Linked DNA regions of Homo sapiens. The protein of the gene in region 1 purifies or fractionates together with the protein of each later gene. This does not show direct contact. Each region holds a gene or a part of one and is shown on either strand. Other genes may lie near its edges.

Region 1 (3,837 bases):
TTCCAAACACAATCTATTCTTTTAAACATTATTTAATCTGATTAAATGTATTTCAAGGTTTGCTACTCTTCAGATCACAGAGAAGTACTTAACTCATAAGCTGTGTCACTGTATAGAGCCACTAAGACATCAGAGATCTGTGACTTTCACATTACAAAGCTATTGAATCATGACAACTGTTATTTTCCTATGATATACTTCTGATGTGTTTTTAATGTGCTTAATATATAAGGACAACTCCCCACAAGATTTATAAAGGCAACAAAATCTACTCAACAGGTATTATTCATGTGAACATTTTATAAATCCTGAAAGGGTTTTCCAAAGTGCTACCTAAACAGTAGGTCAATCTCCATTTAAAATTGAAATGCAAAGCCTAATCTTGAAAAACTACATGCCTTTCAGGGGAACACTGGAAGCAGCCTTTGGAGGCATCCTCAGAAACAATAAGTTTAATATGCCAACTAGAACTAATTGATTAAATTCAGAGTTAACATTGCTTTCGAAATGTATAATCTCTGGGAACTAATTATTACTCATTCTTTTCTTAAATTTACTTTTCTTCAGCCTGGCCAACATTGCTCTAAAATGTCAACTAAGCATATAGAAGTAGGAATGAAGGAGAAAAAAACATACATGCAATACTTTGGGTTATCTGCCCTGGAGTATTACTTTTTCTTTATTGGAAAGAACACATATGATCATTTCTTTTGAGAAGCAAAGAAATATGGACGTCAAGTGTCCCTTTAAATTATCTTTTAGATAAATATATGGCTGTGGGCAATATTGATGAGGCTTTCCTTAAGACAGAGCACCAACATGGAGCTATGAAACACGAGAAAGCATTCAAGACCAGCCAATAAAGCATTTCCTACCTCCTTCCCAAGTACTAGAGAGCTCAATTTTATTTTATACTGCAAGTTAATGGTGGGCAGGAAACAAACATATTTAAAGCACACCCCTATGAAAAGAAAGGTTTACAATGAATTATCACCACATGTAAAAAGAGTTCTGTATAACAAAGCTATTTCCATGTCCCCAGGGGGTGACCCAGAAAAAAAGAGTGCTTTGACCTGGTTATAACAAACTCTCTCTCTCGGTAACCTATCCTGGTCTTTAACAAATTATTACTCTCAAAGGTTTTCCTTCTAGCAAACCTAAATCCTCACTTTTAGAGATGTTCAAGTTCATTTCCTTTTTTTGAGGAGCCATTTTACTGAAGCTGAGTCAAGAAGAAAAAATTAATAACGGTATTCAAAAGAAATAACAATATGAAAGTAGGTTTATTGTAAGAGTTTTGAAAAATAGCTCTGGTATGAAAGGCTTAAAAATAGCAAGTTATATTTGGATACTCTTCTTACCTAAACAGTATGTCAATCTCCATTTAAAATTGAAACAAAGTAGTGTCAGTATTTGGAGCCTCTGGTAAAAGAGGCAATACTTAGTACTTAAATCTGAGGTACTAAAGTGTCATGAAAAGCTGTCCTTCTAGAACAGCTAAATTCAGTAATATGCTGCCTGAAAAACTTGCAGAGCAAACTGATATTGTATAAATTCCAAACTATTTATCTGAATCATGAATCAGGTCCAACTCTCACAGTATTTACTTTGTCTAAACTTCATTGTGACTTCATCTATGACCTACAGGAGTACCCTGTGACACAGTAGGCCACAGGTGCTTCCATTAAGATCTTAAAAGTAGGACTCAAAGCTCAAAAGAAATCCGCAGTTCCAAGGACCTTTCGAAGACAATGAAAAAGGCATGAATATGATGATTATTTGTCTTCTGACATCTCTCAAATCTTTCTTCATGCAATTCTCTGCTAACTTTTAACCTGGTTTCCTATTTCTTTTGGTTTCTGGCCTACCCCACCCTGTAGCTTCTTGAGAAAATATTTTTATGATTCCTGATCCCTCCCTACCTCTTTAGAGAGCAGGCTTCTAGTCAACTTCACTAATATGTTCTTAATAGTACACAGGCTGTGGAGTGGCAAAAATGTAGAGCAACATTGAAAGTATATACCCTATACTCTTTAGGGTACAATGTCGTGTGAATTATTTTTATCTCAAGCAAACTGGCATCCTATATAGTAGAGACTAGTAAAGATGTGCAAAAACACCTGAAAGAATCATCATCTTCAGTAGAGCGTAGTGGCTTTAGGAATGTAGATTTCTTCTAACACACAACACATTCATGTGCATTAGTTTCAATTCTTTCATAGAAATCATGTGAACCAAGGTTAAAAAGATACACCAACGGGTAGAACTTATCATCAAACGAAGCCACTTCTACATTCTTTTGCAAAAAGTACAAACATGTTTAAAAAATAAATACATTAGACAGATGCTCATTATGCACCCAGCAAAAGCAGAACCCAATATTCAAGCCATTTTTGAAAATTAACCTTTGCTTTGAAAAGCAAAGGTACACCCATCAGGTTCTTAATATTTAAGAAAAAAATAAGCTCATCAGTCTTTTAAAAAGTAGTAAAGCCTTTGAGCTGATTAGTACTATAAATAAGTCACTCTTATAAACAAATACTCCAGTACATAAACAGTTCAAGTCTTTCCACACAGAAGTATCACACAGCCTATAAGAAACCTTAATTTTCTTGGTAGAAATCCCTCTGAAAATAAATAGGGATGTCTTGCAAATGTCACTGGCTTCATCTTATAATGCTGTGTTTTAAAAATAAAGGCTTGCTTCTCAAATCAAATTTTCATAACCTTAGTACTAACAAAGCCTCAGAATCATTTTGTGAGGTCTGATGGTGTGCCATTGTAGGGCATGGGAGGGGATTCAATAAGCGACTACGAGACAGCTTTTATCAACACATCCCAGTCAATGCTGAGCCTGATATGCTATTGGAGAGAGCGACTGAGTGTTTTCCCCACAGGCTGTAACTGATTATTGACTCCTCCCATTAGCATGTGGGGTGCATATTGAAGGTTCAAACACAAGGCTGAGGGACTCCTGTCCCTAGGCCAGTGCTGAAAGACAGCCTATCACTTCGTGTAACTGCAGTCCATGTGTGACAAACCTGACCTACATTTCCCTCTTTCTTTCTCATAACAGCTTGTCACTGTTTTAAAAAGCTATTTTCTAAAAAGCATAAAAGAAATGACTTTTAAAATTGCTTAGGTAATGTGCATTCCTAAAATATCATTTATACCAATCACAAGGAATAGTTTATCATGAAGATAATCATGAAACCCAGCCTAAAATGAGCTCAAAGACAGCAGAGTGCTTTATGATGTCATCTGATATATAGTATCTTCATTTGGATTGTCATTTATACTGTATAGTCTTAAAAGTACAATTAAAATGTTAATCCATATTTATTTTAATAAAAAGTTTTTAAACATATAAAGCATATTAGTTAGTAATGTGTAATTAAACATTTTTCAAATGTTATAAAAAGTAGCTTTCAAGGCTTCACAAGAAGCCACATCCTAGTAGTTTTGTTAACTTCTCAATGGATACACAATAGTCACTGCTAAGAATAGGGCATAATTAAAAACAGTGATGGAGGGGAGGAATAAAGGCAACAATAACACTTGGTGCAAATGCTGGAAAATGCTCCCCAGGAATGGCTGCAGAGTGTGCTTCTAAGAGTTGCCGATGTGCTGTGGCTCCTCAACACAAGCACCTACCACACCGCTGCAGGTCATACTCTCTTTTTGTCTCTTCATTTCCTAGAATTTTCCATGCTTGATCAATTTCGATGAACTTCTGTACACATTCCTCCACTGTTCCTGCTGGTACATCTGTACTTTGTTTATCTGGATGATACTGCCAATCAAAAAGAAGGGTGCAGGGGGTGAGTAGAGAGAGCT
Region 2 (2,502 bases), on another chromosome or scaffold:
CATTTTACAAGCATTAGATTCCTTTCCTGTGTGAAGAAAGCCTCAGTGAAACAGGTCTTTGCCATAACTTTATGAAGTGCTACAGAAAGCACAAAGAATTGATTCATGTTCATCAATACCTGCTGAGAGTACTGTCCCAGGAATATCCAGTGGATGGATTCATCATCCAGGAGGTTCAAAAGTAAGATGGTTTTCAAATCATTTTTGAGACTGGTTGCATAACAGCAGGGTACCTGAAAGAGCCTTCTGGGAGTTAGTGAACTAGGTAGATTGTTTTGTTCACATAACGCCACCATCAACTTAAAGTGAATTGTCTTTGTTATAAATGAGGTCACTATGGACTTACCCTAAAGATCTTCTGTACTTCTGTCTTCCATAGGACAAATGATAAGTACTACATACCTCATCTCTTGGGTTATTATTGTAGTCTTGCATTCATGGTTATGAATTTAAAAATAAATACCAATTATGGAAATAGTACTAAAGGCTTGCCGCACATGAAACATTATTTTAATTGGTTTAAAGTCCCTTTATAAAGAGTGCTACATGGTTTAGATAAAGGAAACATATAACTATTGAGTTACAGGGGATTTTATTAATTATAAAATGCAATCAATTTAAATTACGTAGGTTTAAGACTAGTCCCTTGGATAAGCCCCAAGCGAATTTGTCTTCAGATTATTAAAATTAGTGCTGTAAATCAGGGTGGGCAATTCACAGCCTTTCTGAACTGACTGAACTAGAGCTTGCAGTGAAGTGTTCTGCTGAGACTGAGCACCTTACAGATATTTTTCTCCAGAAGATGGTGCTGGGTAATAAAATCATCACAATTAGGGAATGGTTAGTGGTCTCTACTGTGGCAAATGCCAACTGTTGGAATTCACTTTATTGTAGAAAAACCCAAACTGAGACTCTTAAGTTTTGTTTAGCAATGTGTTTCTGGTATGAAACAAACTACTGTGTCACTGTCCAGGTAGGAAACAATTCTTTCAACTGGGTTTTCAGCATAAATGGGAACTGATGTAGAAGGCAGGATTTAGCCCTTCTAGGCAAAAGAAAAGCTCAGTTGGGTTTCACGAGTGTTCCTGTGCTTATATTCAGTCTGTGCCTACATGTTCTCATGCATGTCTAACCTGATTTACCTCTTACCTGTAACCTACCTTATCATGTGGCTTTTAATTGACAGTCACTCAGCCATTTCTAAGCAGATATAGTAGTACCTTTCAGAACTCACATTGGCAAGTGTAAAAAGATGACTTAAGGTGAAGTGAGGACAAAATCACATTCTGCATACTAACCTATTTTTTTCTCCCTTTAAGGTGCTAAACTTGCACCTCATGTCCACTCAGTAACAAGTATTGGGACGTAGAGCACAGCCTCACTCAGCTCTGAAAGGTAATACAGCTTGTGAGGAAGTGAGCCAGCAGTGGCCTTTGCAATTGTGGATCTTGAGCTCTGCTCTCAGCAGATTTCAGGTGTAACCATTTGTTAACTGTACTGAAGGTGTGTCCTCAAGAAGAAAGTGTTCAAATTAAAAAAGCTGCTGCCAAGTACACTGTGTGGTCTTCTCCTTTGAATCCTAGGGTTCTATCCCTCTTCAGAGTCATGTTTCTGGTGCTGCTACTTTAAAACACAGCTCACAAGAATAACTAACTTGCTCAAATATGGAGAAAACTCAATAGGGTTCAGGGAGGTTCTGGCAGTGTGCAGTGTGAAATAATCCTGAGTCCTTGCTGAACACAACTGTAGGCTTGAGTTATAAAGCACATTCCAAATTTTAAATAAAAGCATTTACTCAATTATTATAAAACAACATATTTAAAAAGATGAACCACACCAAAGGTCATCAAAACACCTTTTTATAAATTAGATAATTCTACCTGTTTTACAATATGGGTTTAAGCCTTCAATGGTGTTCAGTTCAGGTGTGAGTCAGCTCCTGGTGGTGTCAGAAGTTTACATGATTGCGGATATCATTGATTTGCTTCACCATTTCCCTTATATGTTCACCCCTGTAAAATTGTAAAGTCACTCACTTTTGGAATTATAATAAACCATTTATATGGATTCTTAAGAATTTAAACTGGTAATGTTGAAACATCTAAGAACTGCTTTGCTAAAATTAACAGCTGAAGGTTTCAGGTGGATAGCAATAGTGTTCACTATTCATTTAAGGTGGCAAACGGTGCAAGTACTGGAAATATTTTTGAACATAATTACTGTAAAATACCTTTGGCCACACAACAAAATCATGTTACTAGAAGGTCATCCCTTTCAATCCTCCCACCATAGTCATTTCTTAAGTCCCTATGTATCATGTGGCTCTCATCCCAGTAATTACTTGACATGCAAATACCAAGATTCAGGTTTCTATTAAGACAGGTTGATTCTGGCATACTGTAAAGGAAAAACTATCTCACGATAATAGCTGATTGGAAGTATTTACTTACTCCTCTTTCAGGATGGACTGAATGCACTTTCGCTGGTAGGCACTGAGAATAA

Evidence for each region.
Region 2: the proteins of DNAJC24 (region 1) and NUP88 purify together in Homo sapiens (affinity purification with mass spectrometry; one large-scale study listed by BioGRID and IntAct). This does not show direct contact.

Annotation. Positions count from the first base shown.
Region 1 is NC_000011.10:31,414,767-31,418,603, reverse strand, and holds part of DNAJC24 (dnaJ homolog subfamily C member 24), read right to left. Parts: intron 3,794-3,837; coding exon 3,655-3,793; intron 1-3,654. UniProt on the Homo sapiens protein: Stimulates the ATPase activity of several Hsp70-type chaperones. This ability is enhanced by iron-binding. The iron-bound form is redox-active and can function as electron carrier.
Region 2 is NC_000017.11:5,384,258-5,386,759, forward strand, and holds the end of NUP88 (nuclear pore complex protein Nup88), read right to left. Parts: coding exon 2,451-2,502; intron 2,084-2,450; exon of another isoform or gene 2,013-2,083; coding exon 1,949-2,012; 3' UTR 576-1,948; downstream 1-575. UniProt on the Homo sapiens protein: Component of nuclear pore complex.